2 separate regions of the Homo sapiens genome follow, and region 1 is linked to region 2. Evidence: fine-mapped expression QTL. Tissue or cell type: whole blood. Region 2 holds a variant in brackets; the other region holds the start of a gene. All regions are shown on one strand. Distances are between the middles of the regions.

Region 1 (7,585 bases), 88 kb before region 2:
CACAGTAGGGGCCCTAAGCAGGCGTCCTTAGCCTTTCTGCTCTGAGCTCTGCAGCATCAGAACCTGCTGCCATAACTGAGCCAAGTGAACTCCTGAAGCAGGAGCATCCCCGGGCGTGGCAGGGGAGCGCCCACCACCAAGATTCTGCTGCTGTGCTCGGGGGCAGTTGTGCCTTTTCTGTTTTTCTTTCTTTCTATATTTCCAGGAAATCATGACATTAAAAATGACTTTTTCTTATGACGAATATTCATTGTAGGATATTTAGTGAAAATTCACACAATAAAAACTGTGATTCGTTTGTGCTCTCCGAGTTTCTGGGTTTCCTTGCATTTTTCTGGCAGCTTCTATTCTCTCTGGGTGCTTCCGATGCACACATCGCAGATCCCAGGATGATCTTCCTGCCTGGCACGGCTGCCTCCTCCACGCCACCCCTCATTACCTGTGGTCTAGGAAGACCACCAGTTCCCATTCCAAGCTGCCCAAATAGCTGCGAAATATCTGCTGAAGTAAGAGGAAAAGGTTCGTTATCTTTATTATCGCTTGTTCACCTTCCAGCCTCCCTGTAGTGAGGGTCCTGTCCTGACACAGTGATCCCTGTGGCAAATTCTATTTTCCCCAAATGACCACATCACCTTTCTATTTCCCACACACAAGGAGAGGCTCTTCCTTCTTCCTTTGAATTTTGTCACCGGGCTGCTGAAGAGAAGGCAGCAGAGGTGACACAGCGTGAAGCTGAGGCTGGGTTGCAGAAGGTGCCACAGACTCCACCCGGCTCTCTCTCTTGCCCAACGTTCCTGGGAGTCCAGCCCCCATGTCATGAGGAAGCCCACGTCACCTGGAGAGGTTACAGGCACAGCCACAGTCAGCCACGCGCCAGTCCTGGGAGCCACCCTAGCTCACCCTGAGTGGAGCAGAGGCAGGGTGTCCACTCCTGGCCTTGCCCAAATTTCAACTCCAACTAAATAAATGTGGTTTTTTAAGCCACTGAGTTATGGGGTCATTTGTCCCACAGTTGTAGTAACCGGAATGACCTCCAAGGACCTGTCCCACTGTAAAGATTGGCAATCCTATGACTTCTGTCTCCTGGACTCCTCCCAAGCCTGAATCCCTTCCCGGACGCTCACAGGTCGCAGCGTATCTTGGGTAACCCCATCCACTGCCCCCATCAAGCCAGCCCCCGACCTGTCTCCTGTTTCCCGGAGCTTGCTCAGAGATAACAGATTCATCCGATCCTCCAGGAAGGGCCCGAGCGGCCTGGCTCCCTGCCCTCCAGCTCTTAGCTCTGTGTGTCTCTCCTTGCGGGAGCCCTCCCTGCGACACCTCCCGCTGCCTCTCAGCGCTGAGCTTAACACGGTGGCATCACCTGGGAGGGCTCAGTCTTTCTGTCTCTTCTCCATCAGCCTCTGAGCTCCATCAGGGCCCCAGGTCAGTGATCACTCCTGTGCTTCCACAGCCCAGCGCCAAGCCCAGCCCTGCTCTGGGCCTGGACAATGCTCAGGACAGGACAGTGTGGGAGTCAGCCCCTGGCCCTGACCCTGGCTCTCGGAGCCAGCGCTGTTGCTTCCCTACCTCACTGGATGTTGCAGGAATGGGTTAGAGATCTGAGGACCACGGAAAGTTAGGGGTGAGGGGAGGATGAACCAGTCATGGGGAACCCCGGTATCTCTGAGTGAGTAGAGAAGGAAGGTGGTGCTGGCGGGAAGGAAGGACAGGTGCTGGCTGTGGGTTCCAGCCACTTCCGAGGTGCAGGCCTGGGGAGAGGAGGCAGGTGGGGCCTGCTCAGGGAGCCCCTGAAGAAGTTCTGAGTTGGCTGTGCTCCAGTTGGCCCCTGCACATTCCCCATGCCAGGCAGGCGCTTTTTCTCCTCTTTAAAAAGGCATTCCCTGAGCCTGGTGGAATGAGACAAACATGGAAATCCCTGGGCTGCTCTCAGTGGTGGAAGAGGTTGGGCACCCTGGCGGCTTAGGGTGGGACTCGGCCTGCAGAGCCAAGCAGGCGCCCTTTTTCCTCCTTTTCTTTTCCTTTCGTCCATTTAATTTTTAAAATATAACAGACTGTGGCCGGGCACAGTAGCTCTCGTCTGTAATCCCAGCACTTTGGGAGGCCCAGATGGGAGGATCACTTGAGCCCAGGGGTTTGACATCAGCCTGGGCAACATGAGGAAACCCCATCTCTACAAAAAGTATAAACCTTAGCTGGGTGTTGCAGCACACGCCTGTGGTCCTAGCTACTTGGGAGGCTGAGGTGAGAGGATCGCTTGAGCCTGGGAGGTGGAGACTGCAGTAAGCTATGATCATGCCACTGCACTCCAGCCTGGGCCACAGAGCCACAGCATGTCTCAAAAAACAAAAAAGTGACAGACTGCAAACAAAGGCACACCTGGGTAGAGGATGCACAGGAGCTCCTTGCACTATCCCTGCAAACCACCTTTAGGTTTGAAAATAGATAAAAATAAAAAGTTACAAAAAAGTAATCATCTATTTTAAACATCCAGAAAAGTATAGAGAATAATATAACATCCCTGTCCACACCATCTAGCCTTAATGGTATCTCAACATTCCCCCTTTTTTTACAAGTCTTTTAACTTTTTTAAAGAAAGAAGATTTCACAAATAGAGTTTAAGCCCCTAGACATAGTTCCAAAGCTGTTCAGCTTGTCCACCCAGACAGAGAATCACAGTTCTGGATGAAGCATGCACTCTCCCCCAGCATGTTCTTCTACTTTACTTACACAGTATCCATGCATCTACACACATGACTCACGGTGTCCATGTATCTGCACACACATGACTCATGGTGTCCATGTATCTGCACACACAAGGCGGTGTCCATGTATCTGCACACGAGACTCACGTCCGTGTATCTGCACACATGAGTCACGGTGTCCATGTATCTGCACACACGAGACGGTGTCCATGTATCTGCACACGAGACTCACGTCCGTGTATCTGCACACATGACTCAACGTGTCCGTGTATCTGCACACAGGACTCACGGTGTCCGTGTATCTGCACACAGGACTCACGGTGTCCGTGTATCTGCAAACATGACTCATGGTGTCCGTGTAATCACCTCCTACTGTTTCATCATATCCTATAACCAGTTTCTCAGCTTCCATTCTGCTATCCTACAACTACTCTCCAGTAATCCTATGTGTAGGACCCTCCAATAACCCCCACATCACTCGGAGCAAAGGCCAGAGGCCCTGCGGCTCACCCCTGATGTCCTCCACCTGGTCCCCACAAGCCTCTGGCACCCTGGTCTCCTTGCTGCTCCCCCTGGGCCTGGATGGCTCCACCCCAGGGCCTTTGCATGGAGGTTCCTTTTCCTCAGACCCTCTGCCCCAGATGTCTGGGTGAGCAACCACCTCCACGCCCTCAAGCTTGGTCTTCAACATCACCTGTCAACAAGCTCTCTTTTCACTACTTAAAAACCACAGCTCCCTCCCTCTCCCACACTATACTTTCTATTTTGTTTCTTTACCTCTCTTTCCTTTTTCTGTGGCCTGCATTACCTGGCTGTGTATGTATGTATGTGTGTATGTGTGTGTATGTATAAGTGTGTATGTGTGTGTATGTGCATGTGTGTGCATGTATGTGTGCATGTGTATGTGTGTGCATGTGTGTATGCATGCATGTGTGTATGTATATGTGCATATGTGCATGTATGCACGTATAAGTGTGTATGTATGCATGTGTGTATGTATGTGTATGTATGTGTGCGTGTATGTATGCACACATGTATGCATGTGTGTATGTGCATGTATGTATGCGTGCATGTATGTATGCACACATGCATGCATGTGTGTATGTATGCATGTGTATATATGCATGTGTGTGTATGTGTGTATGTGCATGCATGTGTGTATGTCTGCATGTGTGTATGTGTATATGTGTGTGTGTATTCCATAGCATGTTGCCCTCTGACATGCTGTGCATTTTTCTTGTTTATTGTATTATTATTCATGGCCTCACTTCCCCACCAGGATCCTTGTTTACGTTGCTCATTGATACATCCCAAGTACCTGGAACAGTGTCTGGTATATCGCGGATGTTTAGTAAGTCTTGAGAGGCTCACTGAGTGAACAGTGTTAATTTTCATGGTTTAAAACTTTATATAAATGGTACCATACTCGCTGCCGTACTTGCTGTCGTACTCGCTGCCGTACTGTGCACTTGCATTTTTGCTCCGCGTTCTGTTTTTGGCATTTATCCACATTGATCCATGTAGCTCTCATTTATTTTAACTGCCATGTGGTATTTCGCTGTATATGCCCATTTCTTTATCGCTTCTCCCCGTGTTGGATATTCAGGGTGTGTCCGGTGCTTTGGACACACAGTGTTGTGAGGAATATTCTGTACGCATCTTCTAGCACATGCATACTTCTTGTGGTAGTTTCTCTCTCACAGTGGATGGCCTATTAGAATGACTAGGGAATTCTTAGCTATTAGTTTGTTCCCAGAAGTTCTGGTTCAATTGATCTGGTCTGGGTTCAGTGCTGCAGAAATGTTTTTTCTTTTAAAGACATTCCTGGATGACTTTAACGACAGCCGGGGTTGAGAACCACGGCTCCTGGCTCGAAGGAGCAGATCTATGTTTGTGTTCTTGGGCATATCTAGAAAGAGATATGCTTTCTTTCTGGCTTGTCATCTACTTGCTTCAATTTTCCTAAAGGTTGCTTTCAAAGTGGTGGCACCATGCGTGATCCCAGCGGTGAATGCAGATTCCCACGTTTTCATTAACATTCTTTAAGTTGTTTGACCCTTGGGGTTTTCTGATAGGATGAGGGTGAAACGCATCCTCTTGTTCCCACAGCGTTCCCCTAATTCCGGGGGCTGAGTTTATTGATCGTTCAAGCATCTTCTTTTGTGACGGGACCGCTGATGTCCTTGACTCAAAGATGTTAAAAATACGTTTAGAAGGATCTTTATTTTTTCCTGCTGCTGTACGAGGCACCCTTTCTGGCCCCGTGTTTCCTTGCCCTTCTTTCCAGCAGCAGATTTTACTCAGAACAACTTCAGTGCTGTGGACACAAAGACGCAGGCCTTGGAGAGGCGGGTCAGCCCTGCCTCGGGGCTGCTGAGTGAGGTGCCAGATGCGTTTGTTCCTCATTTACTCATTTGCGTTTGTTCCTCATTTACTCGTTCCTCGCAGACTGGGTTGTAACACCATGTACCACCCTCTGAACCCAGAGATCAAGGGCTGGCTGGCCCTGTAGCCCCAAGGAGCTCCGTCACCGGCCAATGGGGAGGCGAACCCGTGGTGACCCACTCAGCGGCACCGCCAAGGGCTGAGCGTGGCGCCAGCGGCGGAAGGCCCGGGGTCACCGTCCCAGGCCGGGGCTCCGACCCCGAGTCCGCAGGGTCCTCTCCAGGCACCTTCCATCTGGGGTCTGGCTTCCACTCCCGGCCGCGGCGTCCTGATTTCCAGAAACCAGGCGGCCGCTGGAGGGGAGAAGGGGGAGCGGGCGCAGCGGGGGAGGGAGGAGAAGAAACGCCGGAGAAGGGAGAGTAGAGCGAGGAAGGACGCGAGGCGGGCGGAGCGCGGGGAGGTGCAGGGGGCGGGGAAGGGGCGGCGCCGCGAGGGCGGCTCCTGGCGGCGGGACTGTGGCTGTGGCCCCGGGAGAGCCGGGTGGGGCCTCGGGATGCAGCCGCCGGTGCCCGGGCCCCTGGGCCTGCTGGACCCCGCAGGTGAGCGCGGGGCTGGGGGCTCGTCTCGGCTCCTGCGGGGGAGCGTGGGGACCCCGGGGCTGGGACTACAGGTCCCCGGCCGGCCCGGGCGGAACCTGCGCGGAGACGCGGCACGGGGTCTGGTCCCTCCGCCTCCTTCGAGCTCTGTCTTTGGAACACTTTGCATTTCGCACTGGGGTCGGGCGTTCGTCCTACCGGTTCGTTCATTCATTCTCTCTCCCTGTCTCTCTCTCTGTCTCTGTCTCTGTCTCTCTCGCTCTTTCTGTCTCTGCCTCCTCAGTCTTTGCCTTTCTCTGACTCTGTGTCCGTTCCTCTTGGCCTCTCTCTCCCTGTTACGTTTTATTATGAGGAACAGGCGCCCCAAAGTGCGCTCCTTCCCCATCTCTTCCGTTTATTCCAACCTACACCATTTTCCGGGAAAACTTCGTTTGGAAGAGCGAGGTAGCCTTTTCCTGTTTGAACGTGCAGAGGCGCTCACAGAACTGGACAGTGTTGCTTGGTTTCGGCTCGCCCCTCTCTCGTGTTTCTCCCCGGTGTGTTCACGGAATCTCCAATTCTTCCACTTCCCAGACCAAGCCCGCTGCAGCCTCGGAGCCAGGCAAAGGCTGGGAAAACAGGAAACCTGTTGCGTGTTCACCAGTTCGCAAGCCGGGCTCGGGGGCTCTGCCGGGAAGTGGCCAGGACTGGAAGGATGCCGGGTGTCTTCCTGAGGGGGAGAGGGCTGGGCAGATTTCAGAACAAAAGAGAAACAGAGTTCCCTAGAAAGTGAAGCCCTGACGGCTGGAGGGAGGGATGGAGTGGTGTCTAGGGGGCTCTGCCGCTCCCTCAGAAATAATCCAACACAAACTTCTGGGGATTAACCTCACAACCCTTTTACTGCGGCATCGTTCGGAACCGGACGAATTACTGTTACTTAAAATAATCAAATAATTTGGCTTCTTTCTAAAAGAAACCACTATATGCCTTCCAATCTAAAGCAAAATGCTCTATGGTCAAATGTATTAATGTGGATTAGTCTATTGGTGTTTAATAATGATAACTATTATTATTATTTATTAACTAGTTTTATCATTATTAGAATGCCTTAATGTTTAAAAATAGCATCTGACTTAGATTTTCTTCTGACAAAGAACTTTAAACCTTAAAACAATACTTGGAGCTGGTCTTTTTAGTATATGAAACATTGGTGTATCTGGGTAGGATTATGGGTCTTTTTGTTTGGAGCTGGTCTTTTACTAAAATGTATAAAGCATTGGTGTGTCTGGGGTTGGATTATGGTCTTTCTGCTTTGGTGTGTCGGGGTGGATTATGGTCTTTCTGCTTTGGGGTATCTGGGGGTGGGTTATGGTCTTTCTGCTTTGGGGTATCTGGGGGTGGATTATGGTCTTTCTGCTTTGGGGTATCTGGGGGTGGATTATGGTCTTTCTGCTTTGGTGTGTCTGGGGGTGGATTATGGTCTTTCTGCTTTGGGGTATCGGGGGTGGGTTATGGTCTTTCTGCTTTGGGGTATCTGGGGGTGGATTATGGTCTTTCTGCTTTGGTGTGCCTGGGGGTGGATTATGGTCTTTCTGCTTTGGTGTGTCTGGGGGTGGGTTATGGTCTTTCTGCTTTGGTGTGTCTGGAGGTAGATTGTGGGTTTTTCTGCTTTGGGGTATCTGGGGGTGGACCATAGTCTTTCTGCTTTGGGGTACCTGGGGGTAGGATTATGGGTTTTTCTGCTTTGCCCTTCTTTGTTCACTACCCTGGGCATGTGTAAAATCAGGACGAAAGAGGAATTGACGGCTGAGTGATTACAGTTTTACCTGGGATTGTTACTTGGACACCATGACTGGTGTCCCCACATGATTAAATGGAACTCACTCTTCTTTTTGGGCGTTCCAGGTCCGGCTGGCAGGA
Region 2 (10,509 bases):
CCGAGCCCTCTGTGCTGGCCTAGGGCTGACAGAATAGGCTGGCGGGCCCTGGGGCCGGCTCCAGGAAAACTCAGATCAACTGGGAGGGAGTGCCAGCAGGCCTGGACGCAAGGTGGGAAGGGCTGAGGGCAAAGGAGCAGGAACTGCCTGGCGTGAGGCCTGGGAGCTCAGACCTCCCAGGGAGTAGGCACACAGAACCCCCAGCTGACCTGGGGGCTTCCAGGCAGACTCGGAACATTCTGCCTTCCCTGGCCAGCCCCTAGCCCATCTCTGGTGAACTCTCCCTGCTGGGTGTGGCGGGGAGGACCCCAGGCCCAGGCTGCACTGCCAGAGGGGTCCTCCAGGAAGCCCCCCTCTTTCTGCTTAGCTGCCCCCTCTCCACGTGTCTTGATGGCTTTAGGCCAGGTGTGTTCTGCCCTTTCTCAGGGTGGTCACCTGGGCTCAGCTCCTGCAGGGCCAGAGGTCAGGGGAACGGGTGAGGGCCTGAGGGTGGGAACCCGTGCCAGTGCAGCTGCTTCCCAAGCAGTCCCCCATCCGAGAAGCTGCTCACAAACACATTCATACGAGGAGCTGCTCACAAACACGCTTCCAGGACACGGACCCAAACCACGTCCCAGAGGCAGGCAGGGAAGCCCCCGACAGTGCAGTTACGCAAGCCTGAGCCCCGGGAAGTTGGCAGAAAGAACGACAATTACACCCGGAGCTCAAAGAATCCTTTCATGGCTGCTGGCAGAGCAGAAGCAGCTCGGGGCTGAGCATGGCAGTGCTCAGGGGCGCGGTCCACACTCAGCTCAGCCCCACATGAGGACTCAGCCACGCTCAGCTTAGCCACACAGGGCTCCGTGGGGAACCCTGGGTAGGGCCCCCCTGCTGGCTGAGAGAGGGCTCCGGTCCATTGATTCCACACAAGTTCAATAAGGACCAGTCCCTGGGAAAAGTGCAGGCCGGGCCAGCAGGGCCCTAGGGCACTGGGCCAGCATCGTCCTAAGGGGTCAGCCCTGGTGGGGGCACGTCGAGTCTTCAGTGCATGGGCTCTCACTGCCAGCGTGTCGCTTCTGTTCCTGAGGCTCCCAAGGTGACGTTTCCCACCAGGTCTGTAGAATGTGGCGTTTCCACCAGAGGGTCTGGGCTCGGCTGTCAGTGCAGGAGCCGCTTCCATCCCCACCTGGCCGGGGTCAGGGGTGCCCGGTGCCAGGGTGAGCGGCGGGCGGGTCTGTGGTTCACAAAGCTGAGTTCCTCCAGCTCATCCAGGGCTTACAGTCACTGCCTGTGGCCGGCACAGACACAGCCCCTGTCCTCCTAGGCGGGTCCAGGCACCGCGCTCACCAGAGGCCCTGGCTACGAGTCCCAGGCTTCTTGGGGAAGCTGCCCAACCACACTGGCTTCTTTCTGCGACGCTTCGCCGTATGCCTCACAGCGTTTCCTCCGTATGCCTCACAGTTTGCTCCGTACACCCGCGTTTCCTCCGTATGCCCCAGTTTCCTCCATATGCCTCAATTTCCTCCATACGCCCCACAGTTTCCTCCGTATGCCCCAGTTTCCTCCATACGCCCCGGTTTCCTCCATACACCCCACAGTTTCCTCCATACGCCCCACAGTTTCCTCCATATGCCCAGTTTCCTCCATACACCCCACAGTTTCCTCCATATGCCTCAATTTCCTCCATACGCCCCCCAGTTTCTTCCATACACCCCACAGTTTCCTCCATATGCCCAGTTTCCTCCATACACCCCACAGTTTCCTCCATATGCCCAGTTTCCTCCATACGCCCCCCAGTTTCCTCCATACGCCCCACAGTTTCCTCCATACGCCCCACAGTTTCCTCCATACGCCCCACAGTTTCTTCCATACGCCCCACAGTTTCCTCCATATGCCCAGTTTCCTCCATACACCCCACAGTTTCCTCCATATGCCTCAATTTCCTCCATACGCCCCCCAGTTTCTTCCATACACCCCACAGTTTCCTCCATACGCCTCAATTTTCTCTGTACGCCCCACAGTTTCCTCCATATGCCTCAGTTTCCTCCATACGCCCCAGTTTCCTCCATACGCCTCAATTTCCTTTGTACGCCCCAGTTTCCTCCATACGCCCCAGTTTCCTCCATACGCCCCAGTTTCCTCCATACGCCTCAATTTCCTCTGTATGCTTCAGTTTCCTCCATACACCTCAGTTTCCTCCGTCTGCCTCACAGTTTCCTCTATAAGCCTCAGTTTCCTCAGTACACCCCACAGTTTCCTCCCTACACCTCCGTTTGCTTGTTTTGCACAAATGACTGACAACAGAACACTTGTGGGTGTGGACGGAGCTCGCGTCTCGAAGTGTTTCTAAGATGCTATTTTCAGCAGGTCACTATAAACGCTTTCTACTCTGAAGCACACAGGGGCTGGGGCTGGCCTTCGGAGTTACGAGGAAACGAGGACCAGGACCAGGGATTCTGCATCAGCACAGCCGCCAGGAGCCGGCCGGGGCCCCATCCCTGACACTGCTGTCGCCCGGCTGTACCTGGGTGCTGTGTCCGCGGGGCGTCTGGAGACGTCGATGTGGTCATAGCAGGGCCTGGAACGGGGAGGTCTGGCCTGAACTAGAGAAATGAGGGGCGTATCCGCTTCTCCACCCTGGCCTCAGATGAAGAGGCTCTGGGGGCAGGAGGGAGTCAGACACGTGCAGGGCAGGCGGCCTGTGCAGGGCCCAACCCTCCGGCACCAGAACCTGACCTCCTCAGAGGCCCCCACCATGGAGGGATGTCTGGGGGATGCTGTGCGCTGCCGCTACGATGTTTGGTTAGAGATTAAAGCCATTTCAGAAGTGGACACCTGCCCATGTGATGCAAAGGGCTGGGAACCCGGTCTTGACTTTGCCTGGAATGCCTTTCGGAAAGACCTCTGTCCCTGAGGCTGAGGGACAGTGCCTGCTCCTGCCAGGTGCCCAGCTCTTAAGCGGTCCCCAGACTCATGCCACCTGCCCCGGGGCCTCCCCCAACTCATTTGTTTATTTCCCTGTTGGGAATGTATTGATACCTCTAGGATGCAAGGACGGAACCACACCTGAGGGGTGGACAGTCAGCCGGTGCCCAGCAAATATCTGTGGAATTTCCTCCACACAACAGGGAAAGCGATGGAGACAGAAACCTCTGCAGGCCCCCGAGGGCACCCACTTCCCTGACCCCGTCCACCTCCCTGACCCCCGCCCACCTCCCTGATCCCCATCCCGCAAGCTGGGCCTAGGGTATCGGTGGCCTGGCTGGTCATGCCCTGGGCGCCAGCGCCTGTTCAGGAGGTGAAGGGTTTATCTCAGCTTGGCCCATGACTGCGTTGAAGGACAGGAGGGAGCGGCTGTGGCTGTGGCTGGAATCTGAAGCCGGTGCGGGCGGCCAGGGCCTTTCCCTGGGTGGTGACGAGCGAGGACCAGAGCCCTGTCTGCCCGAGGGAAGGGCGAGGGGACACTCCCCGTGGCGGGGGTGGGATCCCGGTAGCCGGGGCTCAGTGACCGCTGCCTGGGCCACCGCCTGTGGGGACCTGACCTTCCTGGGGAAACCCATGGGTCAAAGGAGCCGAGAAATCCAAGCACCAAGTGGCCGCTATGGCAGGACGGGCGCGTTCGCAGTGGAGAAGCTGGGTGTGTCCGTGGGAAAGGAAAGAAATGGAAGCAGAGGCTCTTCAGGGGCACCTGGGAACGCAGCCTACACTCTTCCCAGGCCTCCTCCCTCCGTCCACTGTGCCGCCTGGGTCCTGGGACAGCCTGAGGGCCGCAGGCTCCCATGCAAGGCCCGCTGGGGGCCTGCTTGTCTGGGGCTGAATTTGGACTTTATGGGGCTATGGCTTTAATTTCACAATGACCGATAACCAGTGAACTGAAGCCAGGACAGCACCGTGAGCACCAAGTCAGAGAATTTTCACGAGGGAACCAATGAACAGGAACAGAGTGTGAGGCTGCCCCAGCTGCATCCTCCGGGAGGCGCCTTCCCAAGGGAGTGCAAGGCTGCCTGCTGTGGCCAGGCCACCAAAGCACCTTCTTCACCGCCAGGCATCTTTTGAGGCACGCGAACATCAGAGGCCCCAGCCACGTGCTCTGGAGGAGAAGCTGAGAGCCCCAGGCCACAGGCAGGGCAGCCTCTGAGGGCCGGCTCAGGGAGAGTGGCCGGAGCTTCTGGCCTGGGGCAGGTGGACCCGTTAGAAACTGCATGTGTTGCCTCTGGCACCAGCCACAGCAAGAGATTCTCTTCCTATCACACAGGGAACAAACTCAAGGATCTTGACCTTGCCCTCCTCTCCCCAGCTGGCCGCACTTGGGGACGCTGATGCCACAAAGGAAATAACCAAAACAAGATAACTCTATTGGGCGGCGGGAACAGAAAGGAACATGTAGCAATCACTCCTCTTCATCCATGCAAGGAAGCGAGGCGACGCCTTGAAAAGGACGGCCTTCTTTGCTGCAAATAGCCAGAAGTGAACTGAGCAAAGGAAGCACGGGACGCACAGGAAGAAAAGTGCTCCAAGGGACGGACAGGACGGTGCCGGGGTTAGGAAAGCGCAACACTGTTCAGACACAGTCTCCGATATATGAATGGCAAGCCCAGTTAAAAATATCTAAAGGGCTTTTTTAGGTTTTTAAGAATATTTTTAAGGTTTAGTTTTATTAAAAAATAAGCAAGACAACCAGAAAAAAGACTGAGGAGGGCATAGGAGACCCACCCGCGTGCATGAGGCCGAGTCTAAAGCTGTGGCCACGGCCTGTGGAAACCCGGCAGAAAATCTCCCAAATACCCAGCATATGAGGACGGCAGCAGGTGAGGCACTGGGGTGAGACAGACTCAAATGTGTGGTGTTGGGGCAGGAACTGAGCCTGCAGTCTAGATCCCCACCTCATCCATCACGTCAAAAGAAATTACGGGCGGGTCACAGATGAAAACACCTAACAGCAGGTAACTGTTTTGTAATCTTGGGGAGAAGCCTAAAGCCCAGGAACTAAGAGAGTATAACAAGTGTGAATACAGAATTTAAAAGAAGAGACTGGTTTAGCAATCACTAAGATAAAACACGCGTGACAGGATCTGCTTGTCTCCTCTGAGCACGCAGGAGCCTCTGCCCCAAATGCAGACATTGGGCCCTACGTGGCACCTGGCTACTGTGCATGGTTGCAGGTCAGGGCAGGCCGGGCCACAGGGCAGGGCCACCCTCCCATTCCCATGTTTACACTGAGCATTTCCTCTGCCTGTGTCTCTTGGGCTGGGGTCTGTGATACAAGTCCGGGAGGCCAGAGACGCCCACGGACAGTGCGTGGGGCTTGGGGAGCGGGACTGAGCCACCTCTGACTCCTTCTGCTGACTGGGATCCAGCTCCAAAGCCATGCCTGGGAAGAGACTCCTGCCTCTCCCAGGATGACTCCGTCCCGCCACGCCTCTGCTCTCAGC[G/A]CCCACAGGGACTCACCAAGCTGGACTTTCATCTAAAACTAGACACACGTGACGCCAGCGGACCACAGACCCAGTGCAAGGGGAGCTGTGTGGGTTGTGCTGAAGGTATGTTAAAATTCATACAGGACACCCAAAACAATCAATCTTATTGCATGATAATTTTAAAATAATAAAAAAGACTTGTGGCAAGCTGAAAAAATTTTTGATAACTTTACTACCAATGGCTAATGTGCAAACTCCTACAAATTGAGAAAAACAGGCAAAAAATATAAACAACAGTTTATAGGAAAAGAAATACACAGTTTTTAAACCTATGAAGGACAGCTTTACTCATTAGTTAAAAAAAAAAAAAAAAACCTGAAATGACTGATGTCATTTCTCGCCTGTTACATTGGAAGAGATCAAAAGTTTAAAAAAACAGTTCATTCACCCCTGCAGGGGCGGAGGCTAAGGCTGGCTCTGGGATAATTTGGCAGTATCTGTATCCAAAGGAAACATGAGGACTGCCTCTGCGATTCCATCCTTGGGAACGCATCCCGCAGACACTCAGACGTGTGGGAGGCAACAGGTGCATGAGGATGTCACGCCAGTTTTGTTTAAATGATGGAAATTGGAAATAACCTGGACATCAGCCAATATGCATGGGCTAAGTTCATATGATGCACCGGCTGGAAATGCCAGCGTGAAGGTGAGACACGCTAAGAGAGGGTCTCCTGTGCAGACAGAGTTGCAGAGGCACGGGACAGACCGTGTGTGCTAAGCCGCCACGCGTGTGAAGAGCGGAAGGCCGCTCACACATGTTTACATGTCTAAGCACAAGATTCTTGGAACTGTAACTACGGTGGTGTCTGACTGGACGACTCAGAGGCGGGGATGGGCTTTCACATCACACTCTGTGAAACATTTACATTTTGTTCCATGTGCATTTATTGCCTATTGCTAAAAACGTCAAAATTTACTTGTTTAAAAAAGAAAGTTTGGCGAAAAGGGAGCAGGCCTCGGCAAGGGACCACAGCTCCTTAAAAAACAGAACTATTCAGGGCCCTCCACAAACCACAGCCAAGCCTAAAGCCGCCCAAACCCACAGTGCTCCCAGGAAGGCGCAAAGGAGGCCGACTTACTTTGCACGCAGGTGGCGAAGCCTGAGTTTTTGGTGTACGGAGACCCATACTTGTTGATGCAGTCTGCAGGAAGAAAGGGAATGGATGTCAGTCATCCTTACAAGACCGGATGGACTGCAGAGCCTCTGCTTCTGAGACGCTCTGGAGAGGCAGTTACTCTGCTTACCTGGGGTGCTATCATCCTCCAGAAACAATGCCGCTTAGCTTGTGTTAATAAAAAACATGTTAGCCCCAACCCTGACAAACAGGAAACCACCTCCACCAACTCAGCGGAGTTGTGCACCCACAGTCAAGTGCGTAAAGCACCGCCCGCCGTTTCGAGGGGGCTCCTCCTGCCATACGGGAGAATCACCGGGAATGCTCAGTAAGTTCCTGACGGTACTCGAAAAGCTAAACTTCATTTTCCAGTGGACCCCCATTGGGAAACGCTGTGCTTAACTGGAAAGCCACTCTGCTTTGGAGAAAGCCCCTCCATGCTCTCTGGCTGGCTGAACACAGCTTGACAGCAGACATCCCGCTAGGGCGGCGGGGGGAGGCGAGGCCTGGCACATGCACATCCAGGGATAACCCGAAGCGTGAGGTTGTGCAGAACGGTGCGGGGCCTCTCGACCTGGCCCTTCAGTGGGTTACTGTTGCTTATCCAGGCGCAGAACGGCACGGATGAACAGCGGAAGGCCTCCTGCAGGTGTGCTGTGGACCGCTGGCCACCCCCTGCTTCAGAACTCAGTCCTCGCTGGTGCCTGGGCTTTCTGGGCCAGTGCCAGACCCACTGTGTTTGTTCCAGATATGGACCCAGGGAAGGACCCTTTAAGAGGACATTTACTAAAATGCACTTTGCAACATTAAAAAGAAGACCCTGGAATACATTTCTCTCCTTCTAAGTGAAATGCTCTCAAAGAGCTCTAAGATGGTGTCAGTTAAACGGGCTGACCCGGGGTCTCTGGGTTTCACTTTCTTGCTGTCCTCCCTTCCCAAGTGTACAGTGGGGGTCTCCAGAGGCCGCCCCACATGCACCAGCTGCTCTGATGGCTGAGATAACGTCTGGCATTCCCGTTCTTCAAATTAAACAGAAACACTATTCAGTGTTTTCGGTTTTAATTAAGAATACGGTAAATATCAGTCAATACAGCCCACATGAACATGGACCCCTTTGGGGTCCTCAATGACTTCAGAAGTGATTAGTGCTGAGGTCAGAAAACCGGAGGACAAAATCAATTACACGTCCTGACAAGGAGCTGAGCCTGGCATCAACTCAGAGAAGGGGTTTGCAGATAACAGCATTCACCTGAGGTTCCACTAACACGGAATAAAGCTGTGGTATAAAATAAAGAGAGAAACTTGTGTTTCTGACCTGCATGTTCCGGACAGTTCCACGTGCACCATGTGATTAAGAATCTTCCTTCCAAGAGTTACGTGGTGAGGAGATTCCTCCAACATGAAACACGCACCCCCAACTATGCCTCTACGACAACCAGAGTAGAGAAGTAATTGAGACTTACCTAAGTATCTTGGGTAAAAATAATCCTGTGGAAAAAGAAAAAGAAAAGGCAAGCATTGACCGGCACACTACGAGGGTCTCTGAACAACATAAGCATCAGCTGGTTAATCAGAGGCTGCTCTCGGGGCAGCCAGAGGGCCGCCCCACCCGGGGAACTGAGGGGAAGTGACCGGGGCACGACTGCTGTGAGACCAACAAGCAAAGGCAGGGCCATTTCCAGCTGCGTAGGAAGTGCTACCAGGTGTGTCCAGGGGAGAGGCCTGCCCAGGAGGACAAGAATGCTTCCAAGTAAAACCCCACTCTTAGTTCCCTGTTGACATAAGGGTCTCTAAAACCCAAAGACCTTAGTTCCCTGTTGACACAAAGGTCTCTCAAAACCCCAAAGACCTTTCTTTTGGCACACGGGCATTGATTTGCACTTATAGTATTGGTGAAACAAAATTGGTACTGGGTGAGGATGGAGGCTGTAATGAAGGGTCTTCTTATCCATGAAAGCGCACTGACGAGGTCCACATTCGACACAAGTGAGCTGTCGAGTCCTGGAACCACCTGCCTGTCACTTGGCCAGCAGAGGCCGGCCGGAAACTTCTTCAGGATCCTTTTGCCATGGCCCACAGATTCTAGGGCCACAGCCTGGTTAAAGCAGCCTCCAATCTCCAGCTTAGGGTCAACCATGCCAGCAGTTTGGCCCTAAATGCTCTAAACCAAGAGACCACAGTCATGGCAGAATAGTCCCAGCGGCCTCTCCATGCTGGGTATGAGTCAGCATTTTTACACTATTTTATGAAATCCTCACAAATAACACCCAGGAAGGTCTTTTTAATCCCATTATCAGGAATGAGGAAACCCGGCTTCAGGATGGTTGTGGGATTCACCTGGGGGCATGAAGGTCAGGATTAGCAGGCGCTGGTAGCATTTTGCAGAGTAGCAGACAGAGGCGGTAGGTACCCAGCGCCGTCTGCAACGCGCCTCTGGCTTCATGCGCTGGCTCTGCATGGCCTTTCTGCCTCCTTCCCACCTCTCTCCCACACTTGCTGGCCTTGCCACACCTTTTGTGGGAAGAGCCTGGAGGCCCCGCCCCAGCCTTGCCAACACCCTCCTGAGGCCTGCTTGGATGTGTTTTCACAAAGTTGTGTTCTAGGAAAGATGGGATGCTCTTAAACTCTTACTCCCTTAAGAGAAAGGAAGGGTCAGGGTGAGCTGGTGTGCAGCTCACGTGTCTGTTGGGAGGGCGGCCGCCCTGAAGGCCAGGAGGGCTGCAGACCTGGAACACACACCCTCATGCCTGCCCTCATTTCTCTCACTTCCAATTTTAGTCATGGGTTGGCAAACTCCAAGAAAAGGCAAGAACAGCCATACCAAGTGAGCCCTGGTGGAGTCCTGGAGCAACACGAAGTGGCACCAGGTTTCTAGGCTTGGAAGGAGAAGGGAAGTGATGGGGCTTTGTCTCAAAGCAGGAGGCTCTGGCTCTGAAATAAAAGACTTGCGAGGGATGCAAAAGGTGTCCTTTCAGGTTTAGAAGCCAGGGATTGAAAACAACTAAGAACTAGTGAGCAAACGGCCTAACTATACACAAATGCTTGCATTACCACAGCTTTACAGCAAGTGTGTTCTATTTTTCAAAATCAAGACTAGTCATACTACTTAATGTGTAATCTGTATTAATACCAAGTTTTATTGTTGCAAAAAGGCATTATTCATGGAAAAACTATGCCAATCTCCTGTCAGTTCGCCACACCTATGGGAATGGGGTTTCTGAAACCACAGGGTTATAGCCCTGGGCACTGTATCCTAATTTGCATGTTTGATTATTTGAGACAGTAATGGAGGCAGAAAGCATATGCTAATTCCACCGGCAAACTAGGGGAAAGATGGTTAAACCATGAGCAAGAGAAAAGCTAAGATGAATAAACCTAAAAACGCTATACACTCCTGAGAGAAAGAAAAAGAGACATTTCACATTTTCCTGAGAACATTCTGGTACACACTCCCAAGAAAGAAAGACATTTCACGTTGTCCTGAGAACATTCTGGTATACACTCCTGAGATAAAGACATTTCACATTGTCCTGAGAACATTCTAGCCAAAGATGTAAGACCCAGAAATGGCTTTGAGTAAAGGCACCCAGATAAGCTCCCTGACCTGCAGAACCAAACACAGAGCACTTTGTCCTCAAAACCCTCCCACCCCTGTCTGCACTACTGCTTGTTCAGGTCCATAAACCTTGGCCTGAAGCCCTGCATTAGCCATATCTCCAGAGCAGCACCCCCAGGAGTCCCCATGGAGCAGAGGCCACCACTCAGGAGGCCGGAATTTAGAACCAGGAGCTCCTTATGTACACACTGACTCTCTTTCTTCTAAACCTAGGAAGAGCAAGACCTATGGTAATGGGTTGGCGTGCTGGGGTTAGGTGAGGGCAACAGGGGGAAGAAGCTGGGATTCCCAGGCTGGAAATGGCGCCATTTGGCCCCTGGAAATC

Evidence for each region. PIP is the estimated chance that this variant, and not a neighbour inherited with it, causes the effect.
Region 1: TMEM255B starts here. The variant in region 2 is fine-mapped to the expression of TMEM255B in whole blood (TOPMed, PIP above 0.99).

Annotation. Positions count from the first base shown.
Region 1 is chr13:113,753,627-113,761,211 of GRCh38, forward strand. It overlaps TMEM255B (transmembrane protein 255B), which reads left to right and starts at 5,600. Exons shown (of 9, transcript NM_182614.4): 1 at 5,600-5,689. The coding sequence starts at 5,644. LOC105377805 (basic salivary proline-rich protein 4-like) reads right to left here and starts at 493. Exons shown (of 3, transcript XM_047430843.1): 1 at 1-493. RefSeq lists enhancers at 4,760-5,261, 5,818-6,319.
Region 2 is chr13:113,839,995-113,850,503 of GRCh38, forward strand. GAS6 (growth arrest specific 6) reads right to left here. Exons shown (of 15, transcript NM_000820.4): 3 at 8,032-8,056; 4 at 6,533-6,595. It overlaps GAS6-AS1 (GAS6 antisense RNA 1), which reads left to right. Exons shown (of 5, transcript NR_044995.2): 5 at 2,375-2,847. Among named protein-coding and RNA genes, the nearest start is that of GAS6, 19 kb to the right of the region's middle. RefSeq lists enhancers at 1-13, 8,480-9,103, 9,104-9,725. The variant G/A (reference allele first, on the strand shown) is at 5,412.